Linked DNA regions of Homo sapiens: all the other regions are reported to be linked to region 1. The links are microRNA targets in miRTarBase. Many come from high-throughput screens and were not tested one by one. Region 1 holds a microRNA gene; each other region holds the end of a gene's coding sequence.

Region 1 (5,144 bases):
CTAATGCCGAAAGCTATACTGACCATAGTATAATCTTTTTTTTTTTCCTTTTTTTTGAGATTTATTATGGGAATTGGATCATGCAGTTACAGAGGCTGAGAAGTCCCAGGATCTGCCATCTGCATGAGCCCGGCCACAAAATATCCCCTTCTTTTATTTATTTTTATTTTTATTGTTATTTTTTTTGAGACAGAGTCTTACTCTTGTCATCCAGGCTGGAGTGCAATGGCACGATCTTGGCTCACTGCAACCTCCGCCTCACGAGTTCAAGCGATTCTCCTGCCTCAGCCCCCCTAGTAGCTGGGATTACAGGCGCCTGCCACCACGCCTGGCTAATTTTTTGTATTTTTTAGTAGAAACGGGGTTTCACCATGTTGGCCAGGCTAGTCTCGAGCTCTTGACCTCAGGCGATTTCCCTACCTCGGCCTCCCAAAGTGCTGGAATTACAGGCAAGAGCCAGCATGCCTGGCCTCTTTCTTAGATGATTAAGGCATTGTATGGTTTTGCAGAGCAATTATCATTCAGCAAATATTCACTGAGCACCTACTATGTGCTGGGCACTGCAGTCAATCCTGGGGTCGTAGATGAGCAAGACAGACAAGGTTCCTGTCTTCCTGAGCTGTAATTATCATTACATACACAACTATAGATATAGAGGGCATGGTAACTGCATTGCATTGAATACATTTGTGACATACCATGAAATTTGATCTTTGTGAATAAGTTACTATTACATACTTGTCATTTTTCTTTCTACTAAAAATAGATTGTACAATATCAGTTATTTTCTGGTTGTTTGGATGTCAGTTAAAAAGGAGTTTCTTGCATTTGTCTCCTTTCATCTGACCTACGCATGGCAAACTGCTCTTTTGCAAATAGATGCTAGGCTGACCCCACGCAAGGTGGGAAACTTATTTAGAAATGAACCACTGTAACTTGAAATAAATCTTTACACAAGTGAAAGCAGGTTTTGTCTTCTTTTTTCCTGATCTACCTTTTAGTGACTAAGCAACATAAAACTCTGAATGTGTCCTGAATACTTTCTGTAAGTGTTTACTGTTTGTTCCTTTTGTTTATGCTTATTGCTAATAATTCAGCCATTTAGTGAGTAATATTGAGTGCCTATATACCAGGTAGTTTCCAGTGTTCCTAATTAACTTTTAGCTGAATTGAGATTTGGGCAGGTGAAGCTGGCCATTTTTATATTGATGCAACTGTTCAAAAGAGCTTGTTTTTTCAAAAAGCTGCCAGTTTACCACCTGCTGAGCAGTGGGTTCTAGGAGGTAAAGGATGGCCAGTGGCCCCTGAAAGAACCATAACTAACCTTGCTGTGTCTGCATGATGTGCAAAGAACTAGCCCACTGAGTGAAATCAAATACTGGTTTGTTGAGTGATGGAAAAAATCAAGGCTCATTGCTTGTCTAACATGGTTATTCAGTTCTCTCAAAGAGGGTGAATGCATGGGATATAAAAAAAAAATACTATTTTTTTCTTCAAGGTGGTGGAATTTCCTGTACATCTGTAGTGCTTTATACAGATGAACCTTTTACATCTGGAACCCTCGAGACTGGGGGAGTTTTTCTGGTTAGGTGGAGGGAGGTTCTGGGCTTCCACAAATGAATTAGGTGCTGGCTCTCGAGTTTATTTCCTTTCACTTAACATTTACCTTCTTGGCCTGGTATAAGGGTAGATTAGCGGTGATCGTAAAACAAAACATACTGGCACAACTGCAGCATATGTTAACACTGCTGCAGCTTAATGATGAATGAGTGCTCAGCACTGCAGATATGGGCACAGGATGCCCTATGCCCACACATTGGCAGACAGCCCCTCAATTATTGCAGTGTATGGACGGATTACTGGGTCGGCTGACTTCTTGATAATAGAAGATGTGATTTATAAATGATAATGGACCGTGGATTTCCAGATTTAGAAGGTTAACCTGTATTTGTGAAGTAGAAATCATTGATTTCTTGTGCCATATGTATTTAATGGAATATGGGAGGATTGGTGATGTTGATGATATTGCTGTTCAAGCAGATATCATCATTTGTTTTTTAGACGTCTCTATTATATGTTGTCATAAAGTATTAATGTGGCAATGTTTTCCTAGTCCCTTTCTCTTTACCAAGGTATTCTTGGAAAAATCAGAAGTGTTCTTGAAAATGATCTTGCAGTTAGCACAGCATCAGGTAAACAGTAGATGTTCAATTAATACTTGTTTAATTGTTTTGAGCTGAATTGGTAACACAGTCTGAGTCAGTAATAACAGATGAAGAATGATCAGTTTAGGAAGCAGCCACCAAGAAGCTTATGCATTTCAGACTGGGCTACAAAATTAGCCAGGAGTGGTAGCACAGGCCTGTAATCCCAGCTACTTGAGAGGCTGAGGCGGGAGAATCACTTGAACCTGGGAGGCAGAGGTTGCACTGAGCCGAGATCGTGCCATTGCACTCCAGCCTGGGCAACAAGAGCAAAACTCCATCTCAAATAATAATAATCCTGTATGCTTACTATAAATACAGATTCCTGGGCCTTGAACTTACTGAATCCAAGTCTTGGGTGACAGACTCCAAGAAACTGTTTTTAACAAGCATTCCAAGTGGTTCTTAGGTTCACTAAAATTTGAGAACAGCAATATATAATATAGTAAACACGGAAATATTTATTTTCTGGGCACACTCTCTGTTCACCTTTTTGAACTTCAGTTTCTTCATCGATAGAATGGGAATAATAATACCTATTTCACAAGACTGTTGAAAAAAACGTTTGGTAGACTATTCAACACTATACCAATTGTGACAGAGGTCCTCAAAACCGGCCTAGGTTTGTTGATTCACTGGCAGAACTCAGTACATAGAAACGCTTGCGGATGTGATTTATTATAGCAAAAGGATACAGAGCAAAGTCAGTAACGGGAAAAGGCTCATTGGGGCCAAGTCTGGAGGAAACCATGTGCAAGCTTCCAGTCCTCTTTCACTGAAATCACACAGGTCATGCTTAATTCCTCTAGCAAATGAGTTTTGACAACTTGTGTGAAATGTCTACTAGGGAAGCTTATTAGAGATTCAGTACCCAGGGTTTTTAGTGGGAGCTGGTCACACAGGCACCCTCCACCTGGTACACAGCAAAATTCCAGACCCCAAGGAGGAAAGCAGGTATTCAGTGTAAACCCTATTGTTTACACAGCTTAAGCAGAGTGAGCCACTCTTATCAGGGTGATGGAAACCCTCCCAAAATCCAAGTCCCCAGACACCAGCCAAGGACCAACCTTGCAAACAGGCCTTACTAAGAATAGCAGTGTCAGGCCTGCTATGTTAACTCTTTCCATCACGCAAATATTGTGAAACACTGGTATTTTTTCAGTGAAAGGAAATGACTTGTCCAAGATCATTAAGCTAATCAGCAGTACAGCTGAGACAGACTCCCAGCAATCACATCTTTTCTTTGCTGCCCATAGCCATGCTTCTAGATTATGGGTCATTCCTTTTCATACTGTCATTGAAAGCACTTACTGTTTGTCACTTGAAGCAGAAGAGCAGCCTGCCGGTGGTAAATTGATGCACCCAGTGGGGGAGCCAGGAAGTATTGATGTTTCTGCCAGTTTAGCGTCAACACTTGCTGGTTTCCTCTCTGGAGCATCGCCAAGTTCGTGGATTTTCATTTTTCCTGACTTTTGGACTTTTGTTACTGCTCCCATTCATTTGCTCATAGTCCTAATACTCATTTGCATCATCACTTCATCCCATTCTATACCTTTTGGGTAACACAATTTCCAAATGGTGGGAATACTGCAGTATTTTGTCAAAGAAGACTATATAGGAAAAAAAAAATTCTGAGCAATGAATTTTATGGCAATATTTACAAATATTGGTTTATATCCTGGATTGTCTTTTGAGTTTTATAGTCATGGAAAACCCTAGGGATATCTCTGGTTATTTGGAGTTTCAGCCATTTTTACTGTTATAAAGGAAAATTAACAAATTTGTTATGATTGGAGCAAGGAATAAGGAAATCATACTGGATGGTGCAGTAATCCCACATATCGACAGGGAGTAGAAGCCAGGAGGGAATTGCCACAAGTAAGTAACAGCTGGGTAGAGCAGATTATGTAAGCTACACCTGTTGTGTAAGCAGTGGGGACGTTCTTTAAGCTTCACAATTAATGTATTTTGCAGTAATAAGGATTAAGGGATCTATAGTATAGTGTACAATTTATTCTGGCTTCTTTTCTGAAAACATTCATGTGAATCACAGCTTTCTTGGAACACTCATCCCCTATTTGGTGCTGTAGAGGTGTGTAAGGTACAGCCCTGCTCACCAGTAGCCTGCAGTTTGGTAGAAGAGAGAGAAGACCAGCACACAGGACCATCCTCCACACAAGGCCAGTAGGTCACCAGAGCCATCCTTTTGAAGGACATACACAGTAAGTGCAGTAGGCATTCAGAAGGAGGCACTGGCTCTCTGGCTTCATTTCTTGGGGAGAGCTTTATGGAGGAAGTAGCCTGTCAACTGGGCCTCTGGGGACCCAAAGGGCTGAAGGTTCTGAGATTTTAGGGATGGGCAGTCTCATTACAGGAGGAGGCAATTACCTGAGCAATGGTGCAGGGTCATTGTTGTACTTAAAGCATGGGAACCAGTCAATTTAGAGAACATACATGCCAACCCCAAATGAGTTTGAGCTGTTATAAAAAAAAGTATAACAGGTGGGGCTCAGTGGCTCACGCCTGTAATCCCAGCACTTTGGGAGGCTGAGGCAGGTGGATCATTTGAGGTCAGGAGTTCAAAACCAGGCTGGCCAACATGGTGAAACCCCATCTCTACTAAAAACAAAAATTAGCCAGGTGTGATGGAGAGCACCTGTAATCCCAGCTACTCGGGAGGCTGAGGCTGGAGAACTGCTTGAGCCAGGGAGGTGGAGGTTGCAGTGAGCAGAGATGGCACCACTGCACTCCAGCCTGAGTAATAGAGCGAGACTCTGCCTCAAAAAAACAAAACAAAACAAATAAAAAGTATAACATAGATTCAGTGGCTTATGCACAACAGAAATTTATTTCTCACAATCCTGGAACTTGGAAGTCCAAGATCAGGATGCCAGCATGGTTGGGTACTGGTGAGGGGGCTTCACGTCGCAGACTGGTGAC
Region 2 (5,144 bases), not on the chromosome of region 1:
GCTCAGGAGTCCAAGACCAGCCTAGGCAAGATAGTGAGACCTAATGTCTGTTTTATTAATAAATTACAAAGTTAAAAATAAACAAAAACAAATGACTTGTAGATGATTGCTGACCATTCTGTTTTAGATTTCTAGTGCTGCTGCTGTGTAAGCACAGCTATGAGTCATTGAGCTTAGGGCATGTAATTCTTTTGTTGAAGCCCCTTGGTTCTCAACAAGTAAATGACAGTGGTGAATGATGGGAAGTAGGTTGTTTTTTTTTTTTTTTTAATTAGTGGTCATGTGAACTGGAAATGGACATTTCAATTTTGTAAAACTTATAACTGGATTATGCAGAAACTTGCTTGTTATAAGCAAGTTACCATTGTAAAAACTAATAGGGATTTCTAACATAGTTTCTTTTATTTTTCTCATAGTGCGTAAGAGACGAGTTGAAGGAGATCACCAGTAAGTCTGCAAAGGTGTAATCTTTGGAAGACTTCAGAAGATCACCAAGGGCTCATGTTGGTGACATCATGTAAAATTTTCCTGGGTAGAAGGGAAAAGACTGGAAAAATTTTTTTAGTGACATGCATTTTTTTTTTAGTTGTTATCAAATTGTAAAATCAGTAATGTGATATTTTATATTCTGAAACATTTCTACTTTCTGCTAAAATCAATTTTAATTTAGTTTAATTGAATGATTTATGATGAATCTTGGGCAAAAAAATACAACTGTAAAAAATTTCACAGGTCATTTGTGTAGAATAATTTGAACATTGTGAGGACCAATCTTTTTTAAATCAAAAGGGATGTTGCTGGTATCAGAATTGTTATTGCTTCATTTAGACATAAAACACTTAAGTGTTTTCTTCACTCCGTGACCTGGAGAGTTTTCCATTTTTTAAAATACATGAACTTGGCAAGGGTGTGATTTTTCTTTATCAAGAGAACAAAATGCCAGAATGTTAAAACAGTTAACTCAAAATCTAGTCATCTGTGTAGGAGCTAAAGCAGGTCTCCAGGGAGAGAGGGTGGTCGTCTGTGCATTCCAGGTTACTGCACTTGTCTGATGTGACGTAGCAACACCCAGGTCTTCTTAAAACAAAGTCATCAGCTTTGCCAGGTTACATACTTTATTTAAAAGTATAGTGAGGTCGAAGTTCATTCCAGTGTTTCATTTTAATAATGTGGGCATTATTAAATTTTTGTGGAAGCTAATAGTAAAAAATAAAAGCTGTTTTCACCACCTCCCTCCCCACCCCCCAAAAAAGGCGTACAGCCAACTCTTAGTTATTTAGGGTAAGAGAAAAAAGAAAACTGTTAAACAATGAAATCAAAGATAATAAATATGATAGATTTCCAGTATGAGGCACTTGCAAAACAGTCATTTAAACTGATGGTTACTGTAAGTCAGTTGGAAGCTGGCATGTATGTAAATTACTTGGTGTTACACCATATCCGAAGAAGTTCCTATGTGCAGTGCAGAATTGCATAAACAGTATTTAATCACTGCTACAAATCTTCCAACCAAGAAGGAAAACTGCTATTCTTCATAAATCTAATTTTTAGTATATGCTTCCTTTCATCTTATACTTTTATCAATATTTATAAAAGTCATTTCTATAATAAAAGCAGTCTTTCTTGCTCAAAGTATTAAGGTGAACAATTGAATAGAGTACTGTGGTCGGGAGACTGATTTGAGACTGCAGAGCTGATGCTGGGTAGAGGGTCTGGACTTGTATTCATGTTCTGTCTCAGGGCAGCCCCTGGAGCAGGAGATGGCAGAGGCATTTACAGCTGCAGAAAACAGGGAGGAATGGAATCTGAGGTAGCCCTGGCCTCAAAATTCAGGCCTGGCTGTATCATTTACAGAGATTTTTCTGGAGGGAAAAGTCTCATTTCTGAGGAAGGCAAGGTGGCTAATCATTATTAATTTTTTTTAAACTTTTTGGGCCGGGCGCAGTGGCTCACGCCTGTAATCCCAGCACTTTTGGGAAGCCAAAGTGGGTGGATCACTTAAGGTCAGGAGTTCAAGACCAGCCTGGCCAACATGGTGAAACCCTGTCTCTACTAAAAATCAAAAAAGTAGCCGGGTGTGGTGGTGCACACCTGTAATCCCAGCTACTCAGGAGGCTGAGGCAGGAGAATTGCTTGAACCTGGGAGATGGAGATTGCAGTGAGCTGAGATCGTACCACTGCACTGCAGTCTGGGTGACAAAGCAAGACTCTGTCTCAAAAAACAAACAAACAAACAAACTTTTTGAAATTGAATTGCAATATGTCTGCTACTTTGGCTTGGGCTGGACAGTTTATCTAATAAGCAAGGCAGCTTCTTGTGTGCTATGGTAATAAGCCTTCTTAACAGGCTAAGCTTCCCTCATAAGAACTGTGGTGTTTCTCTTTTTTTTTTTTTGTTTTGGTTTGTTTTGGTTTTTTGGTTTTGTTTTGTTTTGTTTTTTAAATCAGTATCCAATGTTTTATAGGGGCCAAAGGTTAACTTTGCACTATTCCCTGTCAGTTAAAGGCCACTGATATTTTTCTAAGTTAGCAAGGCTCACTTGCTTGCTTTCTTGCCTCCCTTGCCTCCATCCCTCTCCCTTCCTACCTTCTCTATTTACCTATTTCTCTCCCTCCCTCTCTTCTCCTCTCTTTTTTTTTCCCCGCATATGCAGCTTTTTGATTGTACTTGATTTTATAGAGACTGCACAGTTCCAGCAAGATTGGGAGTCAGGCATGGAGCAGGCATCTCAGGCTACCAGAAAGAATTGGTCACCTAGACTTTCAGTCAGGCATCCTCGTTTGCATTGTCCTGTAAGTCAATTAGTTGATAAATAGTTCCCCCTTCATCCCTTAAGTTTTGTTTTTGTTTTTGTTTTTAATATAGGTAAGTGGGACTCTACCTAAAATTTTGCATCATACTTATGGGTAATATCTTTTTCATATATTATTTATCAAAGTATGAAGTTGAGTATTTTGCTTGTACCATTTCAATTCTGCATTATAGTAGTTCATTGTATAACTGAAAGAAATGATTTCTTCATAAGTGACATTAAATATGAACATTCATCCAATTGAATTTACAAAATCTTTCCAAAATTATAAGGGAGAAAAATCGGGTTTACTTCAATCTTTAAAAATCTGGCACCTCTTAGTAACTTTCAGTATTTCTAAATTGCTCTAAAATTTTATAATAAATAGATTAGGGTTTTGCAATAGTCTTAATTTTTAAGCCAAAGGTTTTCTGAGACCTTAGGTTTTGTAGTCTAACCAGCTTATGTGGTTATTTAAAAGAATATTCTTTGTGTTTTTAAATTGCTATTTTTAAAAAAGCTTTTTATTACCCATTTTATAAAATGTTATACTCATATTTGTCTGAATTTTTCCAGTATTCCTACATGAAATTGTATGTATTAAAAACTCAATATTAGTGGCAAATATTAATACTATTAAAATGGATTTTGGTGCTATATTCTTGTAGCTAAAGCCTAGTAGAATTCTCAAGAATAGGTGAAATACACTTTCAAAGTTGCCTGTCATTTAAAAGACCAAATAAGCATTTTGTATTAAATAAATTAGCAGATGGTTAGAGACTTCAAGGAGAGTTAGCTTGGTCATTTAATTGCGACTTCATGTTATTTGATTGAAATAACCCACATCCTTGCTTTGTATAAGATATTCGCTCTGGAGAAGTTACATGTAAATAGAATTCTATAAATTGTTTTCCAGTTGACCGAGTATCTGTTGTGTTTTTGTTTAAAAAGAGGATTCCATGACATAATAAAAATTATTTTAAAAAATGTTTTGGGCCGGGTGCGGTGGCTCACGCCTGTAATCCTAGCACTTTGGGAGGCCGAGGTGGGCGGATCACCTGAGGTCAGGAGTTCGAGACCAGCCTGACCAACATGGAGAAACCCTGTCTCTACTAAAAATACAAAATTAGCCAGGCGTGGTGGCACACACCTGTGATCTCAGCTACTCGGGAGGCTGAGGCAGGAGAATCACTAGAACTCGGGAGGCGGAGGTTGCAGTTAGCTGAGGTCGCGCCATTGCACTCCAGCATGGGCAACAAGAGTGAAACTCCGTCTCAAAAAAAAAAAAATTTTTTTTTTTTTATAAAATGTTACTCATATCATATTGTACGTTATATTTAACTCTTGCTGTCATTAAAATAAGATGACAACATTTATGAAGTTTTATAAAATCTTACATTTTAGGGTCTGTGTTCCCAGGGCTGCCTCACTTTTTCCCTAAAAAACTAGGAACCACTGTTAACCTCCCAGCAGATGCAAGGATCATGCTTTCTCTGGAGTCCTTAGTCACTTCCATTCTTTGCAAGTTTAGTACTGCCCAAATTTACTCATTCTACAGTGTTACTGCACTTTGAACGTATTGACCCATGTCACCCAAGAGAAGCAAACATATGGATGCACTAGAGACAACTCGGGTTGCTGCTCTCAGTTAAGGGCTATGAGTTCTTGGGGTCTAAGTATCTGTAAAATTATCCTCTCCATCAGCTCTCACTGATCATTAATGTTTCTGGATATTTCTTACCCTAAGATTTGCTTACCAACAAATCAAAGAAACGCTTCACTAATTATTTTTAAATTGAGAAAATAGTATTCAGAGGCAAAGATTTTTATATTCTTTTTTGAGACCAAGTCTCACTCTGTCATCCAGGCTGGAGTGCAGTGGTGCGATCTCAGCTCACTGCAGCTTCCACCTCCCAGATTCAAGTGATTCTCCTGCCTCAGCCTCCCAAGTAGCTGGGATTACAGGCGTCCGCCACCACGCCCGGATAACTTTTTGTATTTTTAATAGAGACGGGGTTTCACCATGTTGGCCGGGCTGTTCTCAAAGTGACCTCAGGTGATCCACTCGCCTCGGCCTCCCAAAGTGCTGGGATTACAGGCTTGAGCCACCACACTCAGCCTTATTCTTATATTTTAATTTGGTCATTCTTAGATCTACAGATTGAACATCCCTAATTGAAAACTTTTTGAGTACTAACATAGTGTTCAAAGGAAATGCTTATTGGAGCATTTAGAATTTCAGATTTTCAGATTAGGGATGCTGAACTGGTGTAATGCCCAGTATTCCAAAATCCAAAATAATTTGAAATCTGAAACACTTAATGGTCCCAGCATGTTGGATAAGGGATACTC
Region 3 (5,144 bases), not on the chromosome of region 1:
AGCCACTGTGCTGATGGTGCACAGCCCTTTAATGCTGTGTATCATCTCTTTTCTTCACAGTGCCATCTCTGTGGAGCTGTACTACATCTTTGCCACAGTATGGGGTCGGGAGCAGTACACTTTGTACGGCATCCTCTTCTTTGTCTTCGCCATCCTGCTGAGTGTGGGGGCTTGCATCTCCATTGCACTCACCTACTTCCAGTTGTCTGGGGAGGATTACCGCTGGTGGTGGCGATCTGTGCTGAGTGTTGGCTCCACCGGCCTCTTCATCTTCCTCTACTCAGTTTTCTATTATGCCCGGCGCTCCAACATGTCTGGGGCAGTACAGACAGTAGAGTTCTTCGGCTACTCCTTACTCACTGGTTATGTCTTCTTCCTCATGCTGGGCACCATCTCCTTTTTTTCTTCCCTAAAGTTCATCCGGTATATCTATGTTAACCTCAAGATGGACTGAGTTCTGTATGGCAGAACTATTGCTGTTCTCTCCCTTTCTTCATGCCCTGTTGAACTCTCCTACCAGCTTCTCTTCTGATTGACTGAATTGTGTGATGGCATTGTTGCCTTCCCTTTTGCCCTTTGGGCATTCCTTCCCCAGAGAGGGCCTGGAAATTATAAATCTCTATCACATAAGGATTATATATTTGAACTTTTTAAGTTGCCTTTAGTTTTGGTCCTGATTTTTCTTTTTACAATTACCAAAATAAAATTTATTAAGAAAAAGGCTCATGCAGTTGGAGGTTTTGGTCTGGATATAGGAACTCGAGCCCTGCTGTTAAGGGCACGGTCCTTTATAAAGCCGAGCTGGCCACTGAATGCCCGAAGCTCGAGTTCTCCAACCCAGCTTGGGAACTCCCGGCGTGGGGAACCTACATTGCCAGAGTCGGGTTTCCGCGATTCAGCCGGTGCTCAGCCTAACGGAAGTGGAGGAGCCGGACCTCTTTGTGGGAAGCGAATTGAATCACCTTGGCAACCCGCGGGGCGTGCAGCAACGCCCTTTCCTCCGGAAGTGGGTGTCAGAACCTCCACGTGCTGTCCCTCCCCCTCCCCTTTTCGGCCCAGTAGCGGCGGCTCAGTTGCTGCCATGGAGTCAGCCGGGCTAGAGCAGCTCCTACGGGAGCTGCTGCTACCGGACACCGAGCGCATCCGTCGGGTACGGAGCAGGCGTAACCGGGCCAGGGCGAGCGGGAGGTTGCGGGAAAGGCCCAACTCTCACCCCTAGCTTCCCCCCAGGCCACGGAACAGCTCCAGATCGTTCTTCGGGCCCCCGCCGCTTTGCCGGCTCTCTGCGACCTGCTAGCCTCGGCGGCCGACCCCCAGGTGAGACCCCTGACTCTCCCCTCCGAGCTTCCCACTGTACGCCACCGGTCAAGCCCCAGTATTCGCCCACTGCGGTCCGCTCAGCACCTTCCTGCCCGGACCCCCACGTGCTTGCTTCCTCGTCCTAGATCCGCCAGTTTGCGGCCGTGCTGACCCGCAGACGACTGAACACCCGCTGGCGACGGCTGGCGGCGGAGCAACGGGAGAGGTGGGCTGGGCCTGGGGTGGGGCGGGGCCAGGCGGAGACTTTTCTTGGGCAGGCTGGGTACCAAACACCTGCCACCTGTGTTCCAGCCTCAAGTCCCTGATCCTGACGGCCCTGCAGAGAGAAACAGAGTAAGTACCTACCCACTTCTCTCGGGATCTTGACGACTTTGTCTAGGTTTCTGCCTTCCTTTTCGGCTCCAGGCTGGGACTTGTGGGGCAGGGACTTCAGTTCTAGACGCAAGGTGGAGTGAGGATTTTAAGGCTGTTTTGAAGACTAAAGTTCTTGAGGAAGGGTGATGATGATCTGCCAAACCCAAGTCAGAAGAATAAGACTGAAATTCAGGCTAAGTTAGACTGAACTTACCAGATTACATGCCCACAGTGCTGTTGGGCTCCCTCTGAGCTGCTGTCTCATGTGTCCCAACTTGGCAAAGACCCTGTGCCCACACCTCCTGAAAGTTTCTGTCCTGGCTGCCCCATTGAGCCTGGCCACTGTGTGCAGAGGAAGGTATTGAAGGGTGATTGGAGGAGATCTCTCCTGTTTGCAGGCACTGTGTGAGCCTCAGCCTGGCCCAGCTCTCAGCCACCATTTTTCGAAAGGAAGGCTTGGAGGCCTGGCCACAGCTTTTGCAGCTGCTTCAGCACAGTACCCACAGCCCCCACAGCCCAGAGAGAGAGGTACCATCACATGGTTGGCAGGAGGGAGGGCCTGAGAGGCTGGATAGACCTTGTAAGCTTGCTCTCCCATCCTCTATTCTTGGACAGATGGGGCTTTTGCTGCTAAGTGTGGTGGTGACCTCCCGGCCCGAGGCCTTCCAACCCCACCACCGGGAGCTTCTTCGGCTTCTGAATGAGACTCTTGGTGAGGTGGGCTCTCCTGGGCTGCTCTTCTACTCCCTGCGCACTCTGACCACCATGGCTCCCTACCTCAGCACTGAAGATGTGGTGAGATGTGGGCCCTCGTTATCTTTGACTCCCTTTCCTCATGCCTTCATGTCCTCACCCGTAAAAGTTACAAAGCTGCTTTGGATTCTTTACCTGCCTGTGGCCCTTCCTGACAATTGAGAGGGGATGCTGTAGGTGGGCCTGGCTGTTATGCCTGGGCTCCTCCTCGCAATTCAGGCTGTGAGGAAGCTGCCAGCTGCTGGGGTGTGAGATTGGGCTGCATCATGCTCTCTGTGATGTGTCCCTCAGCCTCTCGCTCGGATGTTGGTGCCCAAGCTGATCATGGCCATGCAGACTCTGATCCCCATAGATGAGGTGAGGACAGGTGGGCAGGAGCTCTGTTGGAAGGAGAGTGCAGAAGTGTCCAGTTTGGCCCACTGAAGAAGAGCATGGTAACCTTGTGCCTTGTTTGTCTGTCAGGCAAAGGCCTGTGAGGCCCTTGAGGCTTTGGATGAACTGTTGGAGTCAGAGGTGCCGGTCATCACCCCCTACCTCTCTGAAGTCCTCACATTCTGCCTGGAGGTGAGCCTGGAGTGGACATGGCCCCTGCTACATGCTCTGCTGGGACTCTCCTTCCCTGTCGCTGATTTTTATTATTCTGTGGACAGGTAGCTAGAAATGTGGCCCTGGGCAATGCGATACGCATACGTATTCTCTGCTGCCTCACTTTCTTGGTCAAAGTCAAGAGCAAGGTAAGTGAGTGCCCATTGACACACATCACCCCACCCCCATCTCCACCCTTAGTCTCACTCCTGGGGCTTTCGGTCCATCTCAGGGTATCTAAAGTACTGTGGGGGTTCAAGCCTTGGCCTGGCCTCACCCCAGCTCCTGCCTGGGAGGTTGGGAATTTTCTGTCAGACCCCTTATGGCCTGGAAGACTGGAATTTTTAATGTGAGCCCATCCTGGGAGCAGATTCTTAGGGACACTGTTCCACCTTCTCTGTCAAGGCCTTACTGAAGAATCGTCTCCTGCCACCCTTGCTGCACACCCTTTTCCCCATTGTGGCTGCTGAGCCCCCACCAGGCCAGTTGGATCCCGAGGACCAGGATTCAGAAGAGGAAGAGTTGGAGATTGAGCTGATGGGGGAGACTCCCAAGCATTTCGCTGTACAAGTGAGATGTGGGGCAGGACAGAGGGGGAAGGTGTTAGGTGGCTGTGGGACGTTGGGGAGGCAGAGATGGAGTCAAGCAAAGTAAGTCTCCCCATCCCATCTCAGGTTGTGGACATGCTGGCACTACACCTGCCCCCCGAGAAGCTCTGTCCCCAGCTGGTAAGTGTGGCTCTGTCCTTCTGGTGTCCCTACCTCCAAGTGTGCCTAGTCCCCCTGAGGCCAACGACGTTTAGACCCTGGGAGGTGTGAAGGCCTATTACCACAGGAATGGGCAGGCTCTTGCTGGGGTTTCAGAAGCGTGCCACATGCTTCCCTAGATGCCCATGTTGGAAGAGGCTTTGCGGAGCGAGAGCCCATACCAGCGCAAAGCTGGACTCCTGGTGCTGGCCGTGCTGTCTGACGGAGCTGGCGACCACATCAGGCAGAGGTATGTATTCCCCTGTCCCAGGGTGAGGGTTGCCCACAGGGAGGACCATGGCTGTCCTGGTTTACGCTTGTTGTTCAAGCTTATTTATCAACAGCGTTTCCCCCCATTATCAAAAGTGTCCTGGCTTGGAAGATAAATGACATGGCTTACCAGCTATAGGGACCAGGGGCTGCTGCCCACCCTCTGGTGACAGGAAAAGCCTTGGTTTTTCCAGGGAAAATGAAGAGAACAGGTCAGCCTAGGGCTCTCAGGTGTAGCTTCTCAGCCTATGTCCTCTTGTTTGCCCCATCCAGACTGCTGCCCCCACTGCTGCAGATTGTGTGCAAGGGCCTGGAGGACCCCTCGCAAGTTGTACGCAATGCTGCGCTGTTTGCCCTGGGCCAGTTCTCAGAAAACCTACAGGTGAACCAGGCTGAATGTGGGAGCCACCACTTGAATGTCCCCTTCCCCTCATCTTTCATCTCTTCAAGCATCCCTGCTGCCATCAGCACTCTTGTGTGTGCCCGGCAGGTGAACCTGACTCAGGCCCTGCTTGCTCCCTCCCCCAGCCCCATATCAGCAGCTATTCAAGGGAGGTAATGCCACTGCTCCTCGCCTACTTGAAGTCGGTGCCTCTTGGACACACACACCACCTAGCCAAGGCCTGCTATGCCCTGGAGAATTTTGTGGAGAACCTAGGTAGTGATGGCAGTGGGGAGCTTGGGGAAGGGGGATGAGGCGGCGGCTTTGGCTGAATGTACAGGATGTGCATCTCCCTGCATTGCTGCCTGTGGTAGGGGAAAGGGTGTGATGGTGCCAAAAAAAGGTTTCCGCCTGGAGGGAGGTGGGCGTGCAGGTAGCAGACCTGGGTTGGTTGGTAGAGGAGCATCCTTTCCCACAGGGCCCAAGGTGCAGCCCTACCTTCCGGAGCTTATGGAATGCATGCTGCAGCTTCTGAGGAACCCCAGCAGTCCCCGGGCCAAGGAGCTGGCTGTGAGCGCCCTGGGAGCCATTGGTGAGGAGAGAGGCAGGAGGCAGGGATGTGGGGTTCACCCAAAGGCCCTGTGGCTGGTGGTCCCTGCCCTCTCCAGCTCTGATTCTGTCCTTCCATCCTGCAGCTACGGCTGCCCAGGCCTCGCTGCTGCCCTACTTCCCTG
Region 4 (5,144 bases), not on the chromosome of region 1:
TGTGGCTGGCGCCCAAGAGGCCAGAGCGGAGCGGGGAGCTCCCATTCGGGAAAAGCCTCGCTGCGACTCCGGGGAGCCAGCAGACACCCCTGCTCTAGGGATCGGCCTTTGAGCGCGCTTAAGGGTTCGGGATCGGCTGAGAGCCGCGTGCCTCCTGCTCTCTCCAGGCCCGGATGCTCTCCAGGTCAGGGGCCAGACGTGGCCCCGCAGGAAGCTGAGTGCTTAGGCCCCATTTGTCTCTTCCCCGCATCCGCTCCTCCACCCCGGACACCCAAGTCAGCAAGCTGGTTGCTCATCCCTCCATGCTCCTCAGGGCAGGCAGCTGGGTGATGTCCCTCCCTGTCTCCCCCTCCCCCCAGGAGAGGTTTGCGGCCCACGAGGGGATGAGGCCCATGCGGGCCGTCTTCACGCGCCAGGGCCATATCTTCACCACGGGCTTCACCCGCATGAGCCAGCGAGAGCTGGGCCTGTGGGACCCGGTAACGCAGCTGGAGGCTTGGGGTGTGTGCCTCGGGGACTGGCATCACGGGAGAGTGGCCAGGCGCCCCCCACCCGCAGGGCATGCCCACCTGGACAGGACTGAAGGCTGCTGCCACCTCTGCAGCGCCTGCCATTCTCACACCCACCCCTCTGCCCAGTTTTGCTGCGTCGCGTGAAGGATCCTGCGCTGGCGCCCCCACCTGGTGATGCCGAGTCCCTGGGGGTGGTTTGCTGTGACTGCATGCGGCGCGCAGCGGGTATATGTGCAGGGGAGGAGGAGCTATGTGCGCAGGGGAGGAGGAGAGATGTGCCCAGGGGAGGGGCCTGCAACTCTGGTCACTAGAGGTTTGGGGCATAGGGTTTGGGAAGGCCAGGAAGCGTAAAGGGGCTTCTGGGGGTCCCGAAGTAGCACGGGAGGGTGGGGCAGGGCTGGTCACGCCTCCTGTGCTCGGGCAGAACAACTTCGAGGAGCCAGTGGCACTGCAGGAGATGGACACAAGCAACGGGGTCCTATTGCCCTTTTACGATCCCGACTCCAGCATCGTCTACCTGTGTGGCAAGGTGCTCACGGCCGGGCAGGGAGAACAGGGCACTGGATGGAGATGTGGAGGGCCTTGTCCGGGCGCGCCCCTGAACCGACTGATTTTGCAGGGCGACAGCAGCATTCGGTACTTTGAGATTACCGACGAGCCGCCTTTCGTGCACTACCTGAACACGTTCAGCAGCAAAGAGCCGCAGCGGGGCATGGGTTTCATGCCCAAAAGGGGACTGGATGTCAGCAAGTGTGAGATCGCCCGGTCAGCAGCCTTGGCCCCTCCTGAACACCTACCCGCCTCTGTCCCCCACTCATGTCGGGTCCTAGCCACGGGGCTTCCCCAGTAATGCAGTGCTTTGGAAAAGCGGGGCGGGGGGATAAGACAGCTCTGTTTCAGTGCCAGACCCACCGCTCACTAGCCTTACATTCTCAACTTCAGTTTCCTCATCTATAAGATGATGGTGAACACACCATCAGGGTGTTTTATTGCAGAACCAATAATGTGTGTAATGTGCAATATGCATGGTAGGCGCTGAGCAAGTGTTGGCCTCCAACCCCCTTGGTCTTAGACAGGAGAAGTTAAGGACGTGGAAGTCTGCGAGGGTGCTGAACCCTGCTCCCTTATAGGTTCTACAAGCTACACGAAAGAAAGTGTGAACCTATCATCATGACTGTGCCCCGCAAGGTGAGGGGCCGGGAGAAGGGTTGGGCAGGGCTACGAGGCGGAAGGGAGCGGAGCAAGCCCCGCACCCTCTCACGCAAGTCCTCCTGTCCACCCACCCCCGCAGTCAGACCTCTTCCAGGACGATCTGTACCCGGATACGCCAGGCCCGGAGCCGGCCCTAGAAGCGGACGAATGGCTATCCGGCCAGGACGCCGAACCCGTGCTCATTTCGCTGAGGGACGGCTATGTGCCCCCCAAGCACCGCGAGCTCCGGGTCACGAAGCGCAACATCCTGGACGTGCGCCCGCCCTCCGGCCCCCGCCGCAGCCAGTCGGCCAGCGACGCCCCCTTGTCGGTAAGATCGGCCCTGCTGCACTCTGGCCCAATCTACATCTCCCCCAACCGCCCCTATACGACACGGCCTCTCTGTCCTCCGCCCCAGCAGCAGCACACCCTGGAGACGCTGCTGGAAGAGATCAAGGCCCTCCGCGAGCGGGTGCAGGCCCAGGAGCAGCGCATCACGGCTCTGGAGAACATGCTGTGCGAGCTGGTGGACGGCACGGACTAGCCCCGCGCGCCAGGCAGGCGGAGCGGGGCGGGGCGCACAAGCTCGGCCCCGCCCCGGCTTTTAGTCCCGAACTCCGGACCCCGCCTTCTTGGGCTGGGCCCGGGGGCGGGACTGGGGAGGGAACTCCGCCCCTCGCGGGAGACCAGAACTCTTGGAGCTTAGGGGAGACCCACGTCGCTCCAGCGGAGGCTGGACTGCGAGCCTCGTCTGGGACTCGGCTGGAGCTGGCCTAGGGAGGCCTGGGGTAACCTGGGGGGCTCAGCAATGGTGCTGCACGGCGAGGTGGTGTCCCCCTTTGTCCTCCGCCCAGGGCAGGGAAAGTGCTTAGTATTAGCGTGATGCTTGGGGTTATTGGAGCCTGAGCTTGACCTCAAACGGGTGGCGATTTGATGGGTACCCCCAGGCTGGGGAAAATGACAGCGCTTCTCCTAATCAGCTCACTGGATTCCATCACCCTGAGCGGTAAACCAGATGGGCGTCACCCCAGTTCTGCAGACACATACACAACCCGTTTGCTGCAGAGCCGGACCCAGTGGCTACACCCACAGCGGTCTGTGGTAGAGAACTCTCTTCCTTCTTTCCACCGACAGGGGCGAGGGCTGCTTCCTCGCGGCAGCCCCCGCGAAGAAATCTCGAGAGAACTGGCATGAGGAGTTAGGTTCATCACAAATACACACACACTGCCCCCAACCCTCTGCCGTTGCCTCTCTCAGAAAAACAAGACGTACTGAATGAAATATTTTACTAAGCGTTCAGTCTGTGCCTCCTGCATGGGTGGGAGTGAGGGGAACGAGACCCCCAGCCTCTGCAAATGCTACCCCCAGGCTCCTGGGAGACCTGGCGATGCACTCCTGGGCTCAGGGTCCATCAGGCAGCCTCTTACCCTAGAGCTCTCTCCACTCTGAGGTTCAGAAGGACCCCAACCCACACCGTAGGCGTTCCCCCCAAGTAAAGTTAGGTAGCAAAAGCCTCCGGTATGAAGCCTCTTTTATTTGTGCCTCAGAATCAGTCTGGTGCCCCTGGCATCAGGGAAGGGGGTGGGAGGAACAGTTTCTCTTTGTTCTTTTCTTCCATCCCTCTTTGTGTCCCTTCTGAGCCTCACTGGCTGAGCCGGGAAGGCCAGTCCCAGACAGGCCCGGGACAAGGGTGTGCGGTGGGCCCCTGCCCCTGGCGGGGTCTGTGCTTCTCTGGGTGGGTGAGGTGGGGCAGGGGAGAGCCGGGGGTTAGCACCATTGGATGAAGGGTTTTAGAGTCAGTCTCCGTGTGGGGGCAAGTGGGATGTACAACCACAGAGGCTAGCAGCAGCTGGTGGGAAGGGGTGGGGGTGGCGCCAGGGCCCTGGGCGAGCCCTTTGTGTCCAGTCTACTTGGGTCTAGTGCTTACCCCAGCCCAATATGCTCCCCACTCTCCGAGGCACCATGAGGGAGTCAGGGCTTGCACAGGCCAGGGGGCTACGTTGGACACACTCCCTGATCACAAAAAAAAAAAAAAAAAAATGTGCCTTGGGGGATGGGACTCCAACTTCTGGCTGCCCAAGGAGAAGCTGGAACCACCCTGAGACCCAGGACGGGTGTGGGGGCTGGGGGAGCCGGGTACCCCGCTAAGTGCACTTGACGCTGAAATGCCGGGGTGGGGGAGGGGCTGGGCCCTAGACGTGCTGGTTTGTGTCTGGAACAAAGCAGTGACACAGCACGCGGGGAGCTCAGCTGCCCCCCAGGAGTGAAGAGCAGAGATGCAAAGGCTTCAGGGGCAGTGTCCTGGAGTGGGGTTAGTGAACAGAAATGCGGACCGGCCAGAAGGAGCAAGGGATAGGGACAGCGCTCCTCTAAGGATTCATCTCCCCCTCAGGACCGCCTGGCTCCGCCCTAGGACAGGACAGATCTGAGCCCAGGGGAGCGGGTTGGGGAATCAGAATACAGCAAAGCAGGGGGACCAGGCCGTGCCAGTTGCCTCCAGGGCCCTGGCCTGGGAAGGTACCCCGCGGCCATGCCGAATCCCTCCCCGAACCGTGCCTGCTGTGCTGCTGCACCCGCGAGGCGGTGGCTCCAGTCTCCAGCCGCCGCTCTGCAGGCGCGCAGGCCGGGGTTTGTCTGGCTCCTGGCCCTGGGCGTGGCGCGCGTGGCGCTGGCGAGGGTCCCGGCAGGGGGCGCTACTGCTCGGTCAGTGAGAGCCTCAGGATGCGCTCCAGCTCCTCCTCCTCCTGGCGCGCGCGCCGCCGCCTCTCCTCCTGCTCCTGCGCCGACAGTTCCATCGCCAGCCGCAGCTGCTCGTCGTAGCTCCGGAACACGTGGCCGCCGGAACCTGGCCCTGAGCTGGGCCGAGGGCTGGGCACTGACGCCGGGGGCGCAGGCTGGCGCTGCGGCGTGGGCGGGGCGCTCCTGGGGGTGGGGAAGGAATGTCGCGGGCTCCCGGGCGCACCCACCCACCGGCCGGGGCCGGGACACGGCGTGGAGGCTCCAGGGCGGCCCGCGGCCACCACCCTCTAGTGGAGGCGGTCAGTCCCGCGGCGTCCTGGCCCCCACCTGGTCGTGGCGGAGCCCAGACCCTACCAAGTTCTCCCCGTCAATGCCTGGGGAGAGTCTGAACTCCGCGGTGAAGCCTGGATCCCTGACCCCTGCCTGCCGCCTCGGAGGCAGGAGTGGTGGCAGAAGCCATCCCGATACCAGGAGGGTCCCTGCCGAGGGCCCCGCGGGTTCTCCGGCTGTGTCCTGGCTTAGGGGAGACAGGATCCTCTCCGGAGGATTCTCTCCGGCCCAGCGGGCACTGACCTGTCCTGTCGGCGACCCTCGTAGGACATGGGGTGGGTGCCTGGCTTGCTGTTGGTTAGCGCCTCCCAGATGGTGACCTGCGGGGAGGCGTGGGCGTTAGCCGTGGCGGCGCGGAGTCCCGTGGCCCCG
Region 5 (5,144 bases), not on the chromosome of region 1:
TGAAAACACACAGGCCTGCTAAACAGAAGGGTAAATGTTTTGCCCTTCTGGCTTTAAGCAGTCATAGGAATGTGACAGACATTCCTCTTAGGGAGCGCCTCCTCCTAGGGTTTCCTCATCTGTCTCACACTGAGTGGATGTAATGCTATTTTAATCCTGCTGTGGCCCCCAATACTAGTACTTGTCCATACCTTCTTGCATTTTTAGCGTCTGCTCTGTGGGGTTGTTAGGCCCTGGCACTCCCAGGAACTAGTGCTAAAGCTGCATCTCTCTCTCCCCTCTAGGGATCGATAAAGTTTCACTGCAGAAAGTCTCCACTGCGGTATGCTGACATCTGCCCTGAACCTTCACCCTACAGCATTACAGGCTTTAATCAGATTCTGCTGGAAAGACACAGGCTGATCCACGTGACCTCTTCTGCCTTCACTGGGCTGGGGTGATCCTTGGTGCCTTTGTTTCCACAAGGCCTTTTCCTGCCCCCTGCCTTGCCAAAGACATTTAATCAGCACACAGCTGCCAGACTATTCCCACAGTGCTCCAAATGCACATGAACAACAGTGACGGCTCCAGCCTTCGACCCAGAGCCCCGTGCCCAGTGCGTCAGTGGGCCTGGGGTTCCAGGCTACATCAAGCACTGATGGTGTCAGGGCTGGTAGTTACCAAATCAGGGTTAAGAAACATCAGGGCCACATTTCACTACCTTCACAGATCAAACTCAGCAGCAGTCATGACTGTCTGTCACTACACTGGGGATCCCAATTCCACATAAGCACTTTTGGAAGAAAACAGCCAAAGTTGGCCTAAAATTGGCGCTGGAATTTGGGCTGGGAAAAATCTTGTGGTTATTTCCTTTAAAAAGGAACAAAACTTTAGTATTTAATTAGTTGATTTATTTAATGTAATTTCAAACAATTAAATTATGAATAATGCAATGTACAGTAGAATCACGTTTTGATTTTATTAACACTGACCAAGTTTAACTCCATATGAAGTGTAAGCTTGATATCGTTTATGATGTCTATCAACTGTACCAAAAGTAAAACATTTAAAAACAATCATCTGAATGTCAAGTTTTCTCTCCATAAAGGACTTGCCACCTTAAGGACCCCAAGTCTGCCTGAAACATGAGCCACATCAATGCCGGTAAAGGCCTGCATGACCTAATCTGCATCCTGGAAACCTCTTTTGCCTGAGCTCCCCAGCCCCAAACTAGCTGGTCTGGGAGAGGGAGCAGGCAGGTTCCAGGAGTCAAGCACACGCTTGAGCAAGCAGCACAATAATCCATCTTAAGACTCCTCATTCTGGGATGGCTCCACAATTCCTAAACAGCAGTCTGCAAACTCCACAAACAAAGGCTCTTGCATGTAAGCTCTCATGAGCTTTGCTTTGTCTTCTCCCTGATCGAGGTTGACCATCAACTGCCTGAGGTGTGGATTGAGCAATAAGCTTCTTAATGTTGCAGATTCCCCTAAAAATTAACAAGAAAAAAAGCCAGTCTGAGTTCAAGTGGAAACACATGGAGATGGCTGAAAAGTGAAGAGCTATTTCAAGTGTAATAAAACTATCAGCAAGGTGTGGTGGCTCATGCCTGTAATACCAGCAACTGGGGAGGTCAAGGTGGGCAGATTGCTTGAGCTCAGGAGTTCAAGACCAGCCTGTGCAACATGGCGAGACCCCACCTCTATAAAATGAAAGGTAAGACCAGCATATCAAACTATTTCCGCATTAAATGCAGTAACAGATACCAGTTCTTGGTATCTTTGTAAATATTGTAACTTCGTGCCACTTCAGCTAAGAAAAAAATGCTTTATCAGCACAATCACAAAGCAAATAGTAGCATTAAGCTGCTGGCATGTTTTCTTTCTTTCTAGCCATAAAAGTTGCCAGTGGTGAAGACGGCTATACGAAATAATCTGAATGATGTCTAAGCATGCCATTTGGCATGCAGCAGCACCAGTAGCAGGGAACCAACAATAATACCTGCATGGTACTTCACAGTCTGTAAAATTTTTCACACCTATTACTAGCTCATCTCCAAACTCAGTCTAACTAATCATTACCATGAGACTAAGTGCAAAACATAACCTTTTAACATGATTCTGTGAAATGGGAAGAATGAAATTAACAGACCCCATGCACATGTAACAGAATGTTGTAAGGACTGAATAAGCAGTGCTACAAAAATGGCAACACCTGTTTCCCCCTAAATCAAATCATGTGATAACCAGTTTGTGTTAAGGGCTGGACTGTGAGCTGAGCACTGGGGATCTGGGAATACAGGTCCCTGCTGTACAAATCGGTATGTGAGAGACAAATTACCATGAAATGTAACAGTGATTTATTACTATTAAGTCCAAGTTGCTATGGGAAACCAAAAAAGTGCCTAATTCTGAAAGAGACACAAAAGGTCAAGAAAAGCTTAGCTGAGTGAAGAAAACTTGAACCAAGGCTTGAAGGAGGAGCAGAATTTTGCCAACCCACAAGACCAGCAGGATTCCAGGCAGAAGGAATGGTGTGGGCAGGCTGGGAGGTGTGAAACCCTGTATGTTTACAGATTATGTGGCTAGATAGTAAGAGCCCTACATGCCATACTTATTCAAGAAATTAAAAACTTTTTAAAAAATCACAATCCTTACAACACAGTAAATGTATCTCAACGATTGACAAGCATAGCACAGACTTACCTAAATTCTTTAAATTCTGCAAAGAAACTCTGTCTTCTTCCTCATCACTATTGAGAAAATCAGCTATAGAGTCATCATCATCTAAGGAATACAAAACAGTCAATGGCTCATGGCTAAAAAGGAGGCCTGGGCACCAGATTTTAACCACTACTTGAACAGGATAAAAATGTGTGCACGCACATGTGATAGTGATAGGGGTATTCAAGCAGGTACAGACAAAAATCCTCTTCTCCGGAGTCTGTGACTATACTAACACTCCTTTTTTAGAAGAGGGAGGCTAAGTGAAAGAATTGGTGATTTTAACAAATGCACTCTAGTGTTCACATCCTTACTGTATATGTGGTCCTGTGGTCTTTAGGCTTAGACCCCGGTTGTCTAATAACTTAATACCCATCCCCACCTCAACATGGCTCCAACCCTGTGATGGGCCAATTAACTGGATGCTCTGTAAAAACCAGCCAAGTAGAATCTCCTGTGCTTTCAGCATGGGCAGAAACTGCTGGCATTGCCTGAACCCAACCTGGAAATTTCTCAAAGGGCAAAAATGGGCCATGCCTTTGGAGTGAATGTTCAATACCTCTTTGGTGGCACCAGAGGGGCTGCTTTCAGAGCCTGGCATGGTGCTTGACACCCAGGAGGTATTAAAGAACGTTTAGATGGCTGGACGGATGGGTTGACAGCCCACTACTGCTGTGAGCTCTGAACCCCCAGCAGCAGCGAGATGATCTAGGACAAAGAAAGCCTCCTGCCTGGGCTGAGTTCAGGTGAACTGACAGTCCCAGCCAGATTCATGGAGGGAGACCAGCAGCTATGGGCTAGAGAAGGCTCCTGCCAGCAGGGCCCACCGCAAACCCCCAAACCACAGCCATGGCCTTTCTCATCTCTGTCTTCTGCCCATTTTTCTTCTCCTGAATACTGCTTTCAGGCTGTTGCCTCAATATCACCCATGATGACATGGCCCCACTCCTGATGCTCAAGGCTAAGGAAGCTGTTCCTTCCCAATGAAGCTATTGTTCTGGATTCCCTGACCAGCCCCACTCTCCCCTTTTCCTTCGACTTATTCTATGTGAAGTCCCTTGTAGATTTGTTTGAAGTCAACCAACCCACCTTTGTTTTCCACAGGCTTTACGGTTTTGGTAGGAAGAGCTGATCTTATTTTTTTCTCAACAGGACGAGTTTCAGGGTTGCACTGTTCTGAAAAAGACACAAATCCCAGGCCCACATTACCTCCATTTCAGCGACAAGGCTGCACCTCCCTACCAAGGTAGCATCTAGGTAGGAAGCAAGTGTCTGGGGTAAGGGATGTGGGTGGGTGCCCAGGAATGTGGAAGAAGTGAGAGATCAAAGCAAGAGAGAGATTAAGGAAAACCGCCAGCAGGCTGAGAAAGCAGGACTCATTCATGCACCCCAAGAACCTGTCCCCATCCTCCCTACCCTGCCGAATCTTACAAAATTCTCACCACAATTAACTGAGGTGTTTGAAATAGCTGCTGTAAACCAGATACCAGATGGGATAAAACTAGGGGCAAAACCACCAAAGAACTTACAGAGTCAACAGAAGGCCAGCTGTGCTGGCTCACGCCTGTAATCCTAACATTCGGAGGCCAAGGTGGGAGGATCACTTGAGCCCAGGAGTTTGAGACCAGCCTGGGCAACCTAGCAAGACTATGTCTCTACAGAAAATAAAAAAAATCATCCAGGCATGGTGGTACACACATGTGGTCTCAGCTACTTGGGAGGCTGAGGCAGGAGGATCCCTTAAGCCCAGTGTGTCAAGGCTGCAGTGAGCTGTGATTGTGCCACTGCACTCCAGCCTGGGTGACAGTATCAACAGAGCATGAAGTCACAGGAAAGGGTTCTGAGGACATAAAGGCAGGACCAGATTGTAGAGACTTAAAATGTAGATTTGACAATATGCTACGGAAAGGTTCTAGTCATGTAGGTGGCAGTTACAACAGCTGCCAGTGACTAAGTGCCGAGCACTGTGCCAGGTACACAGTGAGATACATAGTGGCTCAATGAACCTTTACGAAGCCCCCATGACATGGAGACTGTTAATTCCACTTACAGATGAAAGGATTAAATTTTCTTGTAATAAACTTGTCCATTGGGGTCCACAGCTAGTAAGTAGCAGAGGCAGATTTGGAATCCGGGTCTAACTTTACGGCTATGCTATATGTGTAAGGAACACAGCAGGAGGGACTGAAGGAGAGGTGAATTTTCTGGGTTGTACCTGACCCCAAAATACATTTGTGTCTAAGGTGCTCAAAAAGAGGCTGGAGCTAAACAGTTGGATGTCAGCAAGAAAAAAAAAAGTTTAAAGTGAAAGAGAGATCACCTACCTAGGAATAAAAGTCAAGGACCACATTTCAAGAGAGAGATCTAGCAAAAGGAAGGAGAAGCTGGGCACAGTGGCTCCTGCCTGTAATCCCAGCAATTTGGGAGGTTGAGGCAGGAGGA
Region 6 (5,121 bases), not on the chromosome of region 1:
AGATGATGATGATGAGGACCAGGGGTCAGCCACACTCTCTCAGACTCCTCAGCCCCAGAGAGTATCAGGGGTTTTTCCCCGTCCTCATGGACCCCACCCACTGCCCATGACTGCTACTCCCCGAAAGCTTCCAGAGGGTGAGAGTGCACCACTTGAGCTTCCTGCCCCTCCTGCACTGCCCCCCAAAATCTTCTACATTAAGCAGGAACCCTTCGAGCCTAAGGAGGAGATATCAGGAAGCGGAACTCAGCCTGGAGGAGCAAAGGAGGAAACCAAAGTGTTTTCTGGAGGGGACACTGAAGGGAATGGGGAGCTAGGGTTCTTGTTGCCTTCAGGGCCAGGGCCAACATCTGGGGGAGGGGGTCCATCCTGGAAACCAGTGGATCTTCATGGGAATGAAATCCTGTCAGGGGGTGGAGGACCTGGGGGAGCAGGCCAGGCCGTGCATGGGCCTGTGAAGCTAGGGGGGACACCCCCTGCAGATGGAAAACGCTTTGGTTGCCTGTGTGGGAAGCGGTTTGCAGTGAAGCCAAAGCGTGACCGGCACATCATGCTGACCTTCAGCCTTCGGCCTTTTGGCTGTGGCATCTGCAACAAGCGCTTCAAGCTGAAGCACCATCTGACAGAGCACATGAAGACCCATGCTGGAGCCCTGCATGCCTGTCCCCACTGTGGCCGTCGGTTCCGAGTCCATGCCTGTTTTCTCCGCCACCGGGACCTATGCAAGGGCCAGGGCTGGGCCACTGCCCACTGGACTTACAAGTGACTGCTGAGGCTATACACTAGCTTCTAGAACAAGATAACCACTGCTGCTGATGGATACTTTTCCCTCACTGCCATGGCACACCAGTCATGGATCTTGTAATCATGCCAAGAGAATAGATACATTATGGACCTCTTGTTCTTAGATATGGGCCTCTCAGCCTGGCAGATGTGGAAACTCAAATTTCTCGTCCCACTCCAGGTTTTGGCTAGCCAACCCTGCAGGAAAGTGGTTTATAGGCCATTCATACTTAAGTTGATCACTTGCCCATGGTGGACATTTTTGTGGTGGTGATGTCCATTAAGGAAACCAGATTTTCAATTATTTAGTGAGAGAAGAGTTAGAGCAAAAGACAGTGGTAAATGTTTTATTCCGTCTCCATGAGGAATTGAAGGAGTTGGTCTCCACCTAGAGATACATTTGATTTACAGCTTAAGTAATTCAGAGGCTAAGCTCTAAGCTTTTTTCTCTCATTGCTGGAATGATTTAAGCAGAAGTCCTTTTGTGTACTTTTAAAATTGTATCTTTCCAGGAGCCCCTCAGATTGTACCTTGCTTTCTCACCAATAGACACCTTCCCGACACTTTTTTAATGTTGTAGCTGAGCACTTTAACAAGTTGAGCATTCCATGTTTCATTCTTAGAACCTTCTTTAATAGAGGGTCTTCCCTCAACAGCCTGTGCCTCTGGTCTACCTTTGACCACCACTGATAACTAATATATTGGTCACAATGACTGGAATGTGACTAGTGATCTCAGGAGATGGCACTGTCCTAAAGTGCTGTCAGGGTGGCACCACTGCTCTCTGAACAACTTACCTTGGTCAGAGGGACTCAGGTTTGGGACAGCACAAGCTGAAGGCTGGAGAGTAACTTGCATAGTAGGACCATACCTCTTCCTTTCCCATCCCACCCACATATGATAGACAGCCCCTCTGTTGAGATATGGAGGGGACAGATACTGGAATCGGGGGTGGGACTTGCAGTTACTTAAAATTTTTTAATAAACTGTGCCCTGAAACCTAAACTGACAGTGGACTGGATTGAGTAATTTGTGTGGGAGAGAATGTGAGAATGGAGCTGCAGAGCCTTGGGTGTGTTCCTTAGGTGGCTAGGTTATGTTGATGGGGAAGGAATGGGATGGTATCACACCCATTCCTTGGATGGTGCCAAGAACACTCTTCTGGACTTAGGCCCTGACCTGCTACTTAATAACCTTCAGTAGGTTGCCTTACTGTTTTGTTTTGTTTTGTTTTTTTGAGATAGAGTGTCACTCTGTTGCCCAGGCTGGAGTGCAGTGGCACAATCGCATGCTCACTGCAACCTCTGCCTCCCGGGTCCAAGTGATTCTCCTGCCTCAGCCTCCTGAGTAGCTGGGGTTATCAGGCATCCGCCACCATGCCTGGCTAAGTTTTTTGTATTTTTAGTAGAGACGGGGTTTCACCGTGTTAGCCAGGATGGTCTGGATCTCCTGACCTCATGATCCGCCTGCCTCAGCCTTCCAAAGTGCTGGGATTACAGGCATGAGCCACTGCACCTGGCCTGCCTTACGTTTTAAAATCTGAACTAGTACTTTTTTTGGTAGAGTGGTGTGGAACACCTAACTGGTTCTGTTTTCCTTTTTAAAAGAGGTTGGTTCACTTATCTTTTTATTATTATTTATTTATTTTTTGAGACGGAGTCTTGCTCTGTCGCCTAGGCTGGTGTACAGTGACGTGATCTTGGCTCACTGCAACCTTCACCTCCTGGGTTCAAGCGATTCTCCTGCCTAAGCCTCCCAAGTAGCTGGGACTACAGGTGTGTGCCACCACGCCTGGCTAATTTTGTATTTTTAGGAGAGATGGGGTTTTAGCATGTTGGCCAGTCTGGTCTTGAACTCCTGACCTCAGGTGATCCACCCACCTGGGCCTCCCAAAGTGCTGGGATTACAGGCCTGAGCCACTGCACCCAGTCTATTATTATTTTAGAGACAAGGTCTCACTATGTTGCCCAGGCTGGTCTCGAACTCCCAAGCTCAAGTGATACTTCTGCCTCAGCCGCCCAAAGTGCTGGGATTCCAGGCATGAGCCACCGCACCTGGCTGGTTCACATGATCTTTATAATATTCCCCAACTTCCTGTGTTCTCTGTGTTTGGTTGGTTGTTCTACAAACATTCAGTGCAAAGCACTATGCTAGACCCTGATTAATACACTGCCCTTAAAGGGTTCACAGGTATTACCAAAGATAGACAAGCCATTACAACGTGATAGGATAAGTTGATGATAGTGGGCAGTACAAACCACTTGAATGGCACAAAGAAAGCTAAGTAAAGACCTTCTCTAGGTCAGCAGAGGTTTCACAAACACAGCTTCCATGTGCCACAGTGTGGTCATGGGTGTGGGTGGCTGAACTGACACGGAGATGGTAAACAGAGGAGTCGAACTGAGAAGTATAGGGCCAGGGGTGATAGCCTTCCCCAAAGTTTGTTTCTGAAAGTTATGAGGTATGGCACTCAGAAGGGTCTGAAAAATGTGACTGTGGCTAAGAAGGTAAATTCTAGCTGGGATTTGACAGTGTCTCAAAAGAGCCATGCCATGATCCCATCCCCATGATAAGGACTGTGAACTTATTGGGAAAGGGGATGAAGAGGGGTCAACCTGTCTTGGATCTGCTATAATCCCATCCATCAGCTATTCTTGACACATATTCTATGGGTGGCTATATCCATTGGCCAAGATCCTTTGGCTTCAAGCACTGGAAGCTGGCTCTGGCTAACCTCACCAGACAAGGAATTTATGGCAGGATGTGGGGTGGCTCTTGGAATTCAAAGAAGGGCCAAAGGACCAGCCATCAGAAGGATAAGACCTGGGTCAGCGTTGGGGGTCCATGGCGCAGGAACTCCAAGGCATACAGTTTGGGATGATGACTCATTCTTGTTTCTTGTGTCACTCATCTCAAGATAAAATTTCCCAGGGAAAGAACTCTAAGCCTCATGACCACCCTCTGGTCAGAGCACCTTGATCATATAGTCCATCAAGATGGCAACAAAGTGGGCATGGAATCCTCAAAAGCAATTGAAGTCCTAGGACAGAAGAGAATGGGTTCTGGCCAGCCCACAGCAACAGAGACACACACCGGACGATCTCCATATGTTACACATTTTGGGATCCCAAAGCCTCAGGTATACTTGCTACTTAGTGGGTGTTCAAGATACGCTGAAGCTGCCCAACTTCCACCTCTGCCCGCTGGACTTAAGGCAGAATTGTTTCTTCCCTCTCCTTAATCCCCATGACACTTTGTCCTTACTTGTATCAAAGCAATTAAAATAGCTTGTTAGAGTTTTTCTTCTTTTGTTTTTAGGTATTATACAGAAAACAAGTGCTGAAATTAAAGATTTTGGTTTAAACAAATAAACTTGTTACCTCTCTGCCTCTGTCCTTCAGAAGATGCAGTGGAGGAGATGTCCAATCTAGTGTCAAAGGATAGCCCCATTCCCAGAGCCTTTGCTCTTTTAATTATCACTTCTCTCCTTTATCTTTCCCCTCTCTGTCTCTGTAGTTCATTACATTTAACCATGCTCACAGGGTAGTGAGAATTAATTAATACATGTAAAATACTTAGAACCATGCCTTGCATGCAGTAGTCACTCAATAAGTGTTAGCTGTTATCATGAGTGAGACCAGTAGTCATCGGTTCCCCACCCCTTTACTGCGATCAGTTCTCCCAGAGAGAGATCACACTCATAATAAAGGAAATTGCCCCATCAAAAAGTGGGCAAAGGACATGAACAGACACTTCTCAAAAGAAGACATTTATGCAGCCAAAAAACACATGAAAAAATGCTCACCATCACTGGCCATCAGAGAAATGCAAATCAAAACCACAATGAGATACCATCTCACACCAGTTAGAATGGCAATCATTAAAAAGTCAGGAAACAACAGGTGCTGGAGAGGATGTGGAGAAATAGGAACACTTTTACACTGTTGGTGGGACTGTAAACTAGTTCAACCATTGTGGAAGTCAGTGTGGCGATTCCTCAGGGATCTAGAACTAGAAATACCATTTGACCCAGCCATCCCATTACTGGGTATATACCCAAAGGACTATTAAGTCATGCTGCTATAAAGACACATGCACACGTATGTTTATTGCGGCACTATTCACGATAGCAAAGACTTGGAACCAATCCAAATGTCCAACAACTGTAGATTGGATTAAGAAAATGTGGCACATATACACCATGGAACACTATGCAGTCATAAAAAATGATGAGTTCATGTCCTTTGTAGGGACATGGATGAAATTGGAAATCATCATTCTCAGTAAACTATTGCAAGAACAAAAAACCATACACCACATATTCTCACTCATAGGTGG

What was found. Region 1 holds the annotated microRNA hsa-miR-505-3p (CGUCAACACUUGCUGGUUUCCU, at 3,610-3,631, shown strand). A microRNA usually pairs through its seed, bases 2 to 8, with sites in the 3' UTR of a target mRNA and lowers its output. Matches are read on the target gene's strand: a 7mer-m8 pairs with bases 2 to 8, a 7mer-A1 pairs with bases 2 to 7 and ends in A, and an 8mer does both.
Region 2: the mRNA of TMOD3 is a reported target of hsa-miR-505-3p. The part of its 3' UTR that is shown has no 7-base or 8-base seed match.
Region 3: miRTarBase lists TM9SF1 as a target of hsa-miR-505-3p. The part of its 3' UTR that is shown has no 7-base or 8-base seed match.
Region 4: miRTarBase lists ANKRD13B as a target of hsa-miR-505-3p. The part of its 3' UTR that is shown has no 7-base or 8-base seed match.
Region 5: miRTarBase lists MYO19 as a target of hsa-miR-505-3p. The part of its 3' UTR that is shown has no 7-base or 8-base seed match.
Region 6: the mRNA of ZBTB9 is a reported target of hsa-miR-505-3p. The part of its 3' UTR that is shown has no 7-base or 8-base seed match.

The regions. Positions count from the first base shown.
Region 1 is chrX:139,922,647-139,927,790 of GRCh38, reverse strand. It overlaps MIR505 (microRNA 505), which reads left to right and starts at 3,560; the gene lies at 3,560-3,643. The region is part of intron 1 of ATP11C (ATPase phospholipid transporting 11C (ATP11C blood group)); the gene reads left to right.
Region 2 is chr15:51,908,360-51,913,503 of GRCh38, forward strand. It overlaps TMOD3 (tropomodulin 3), which reads left to right. Exons shown (of 10, transcript NM_014547.5): 10 at 417-5,144. The coding sequence ends at 451. Among named protein-coding and RNA genes, the nearest start is that of LEO1, 61 kb to the right of the region's middle. RefSeq lists an enhancer at 1-168.
Region 3 is chr14:24,184,725-24,189,868 of GRCh38, reverse strand. TM9SF1 (transmembrane 9 superfamily member 1) reads left to right here. Exons shown (of 6, transcript NM_006405.7): 6 at 61-720. The coding sequence ends at 454. It overlaps IPO4 (importin 4), which reads left to right and starts at 1,053. Exons shown (of 30, transcript NM_024658.4): 1 at 1,053-1,150; 2 at 1,231-1,317; 3 at 1,446-1,525; 4 at 1,612-1,653; 5 at 2,073-2,202; 6 at 2,290-2,469; 7 at 2,719-2,784; 8 at 2,890-2,991; 9 at 3,078-3,161; 10 at 3,418-3,582; 11 at 3,687-3,740; 12 at 3,899-4,008; 13 at 4,302-4,410; 14 at 4,557-4,686; 2 more. The coding sequence starts at 1,082. RefSeq lists silencers at 1,482-1,601, 1,847-2,057.
Region 4 is chr17:29,612,835-29,617,978 of GRCh38, reverse strand. It overlaps ANKRD13B (ankyrin repeat domain 13B), which reads right to left. Exons shown (of 15, transcript NM_152345.5): 14 at 5,016-5,092; 15 at 3,218-4,625. The coding sequence ends at 4,397. It overlaps CORO6 (coronin 6), which reads left to right. Exons shown (of 11, transcript NM_032854.4): 6 at 360-479; 7 at 937-1,041; 8 at 1,132-1,277; 9 at 1,643-1,700; 10 at 1,804-2,034; 11 at 2,122-3,217. The coding sequence ends at 2,247. Among named protein-coding and RNA genes, the nearest start is that of CORO6, 7.5 kb to the left of the region's middle. RefSeq lists silencers at 2,255-2,304, 2,184-2,397, 2,845-2,914, 4,243-4,352, 4,513-4,742 and enhancers at 1,976-2,839, 3,705-4,568.
Region 5 is chr17:36,491,547-36,496,690 of GRCh38, reverse strand. It overlaps MYO19 (myosin XIX), which reads left to right. Exons shown (of 26, transcript NM_001163735.2): 26 at 285-1,055. The coding sequence ends at 440. It overlaps ZNHIT3 (zinc finger HIT-type containing 3), which reads right to left. Exons shown (of 5, transcript NM_004773.4): 3 at 3,792-3,878; 4 at 2,685-2,765; 5 at 869-1,468. The coding sequence ends at 1,287. Among named protein-coding and RNA genes, the nearest start is that of ZNHIT3, 7.4 kb to the right of the region's middle.
Region 6 is chr6:33,455,757-33,460,877 of GRCh38, forward strand. ZBTB9 (zinc finger and BTB domain containing 9) reads left to right here. Exons shown (of 2, transcript NM_152735.4): 2 at 1-1,788. The coding sequence ends at 766. Among named protein-coding and RNA genes, the nearest start is that of ZBTB9, 3.7 kb to the left of the region's middle.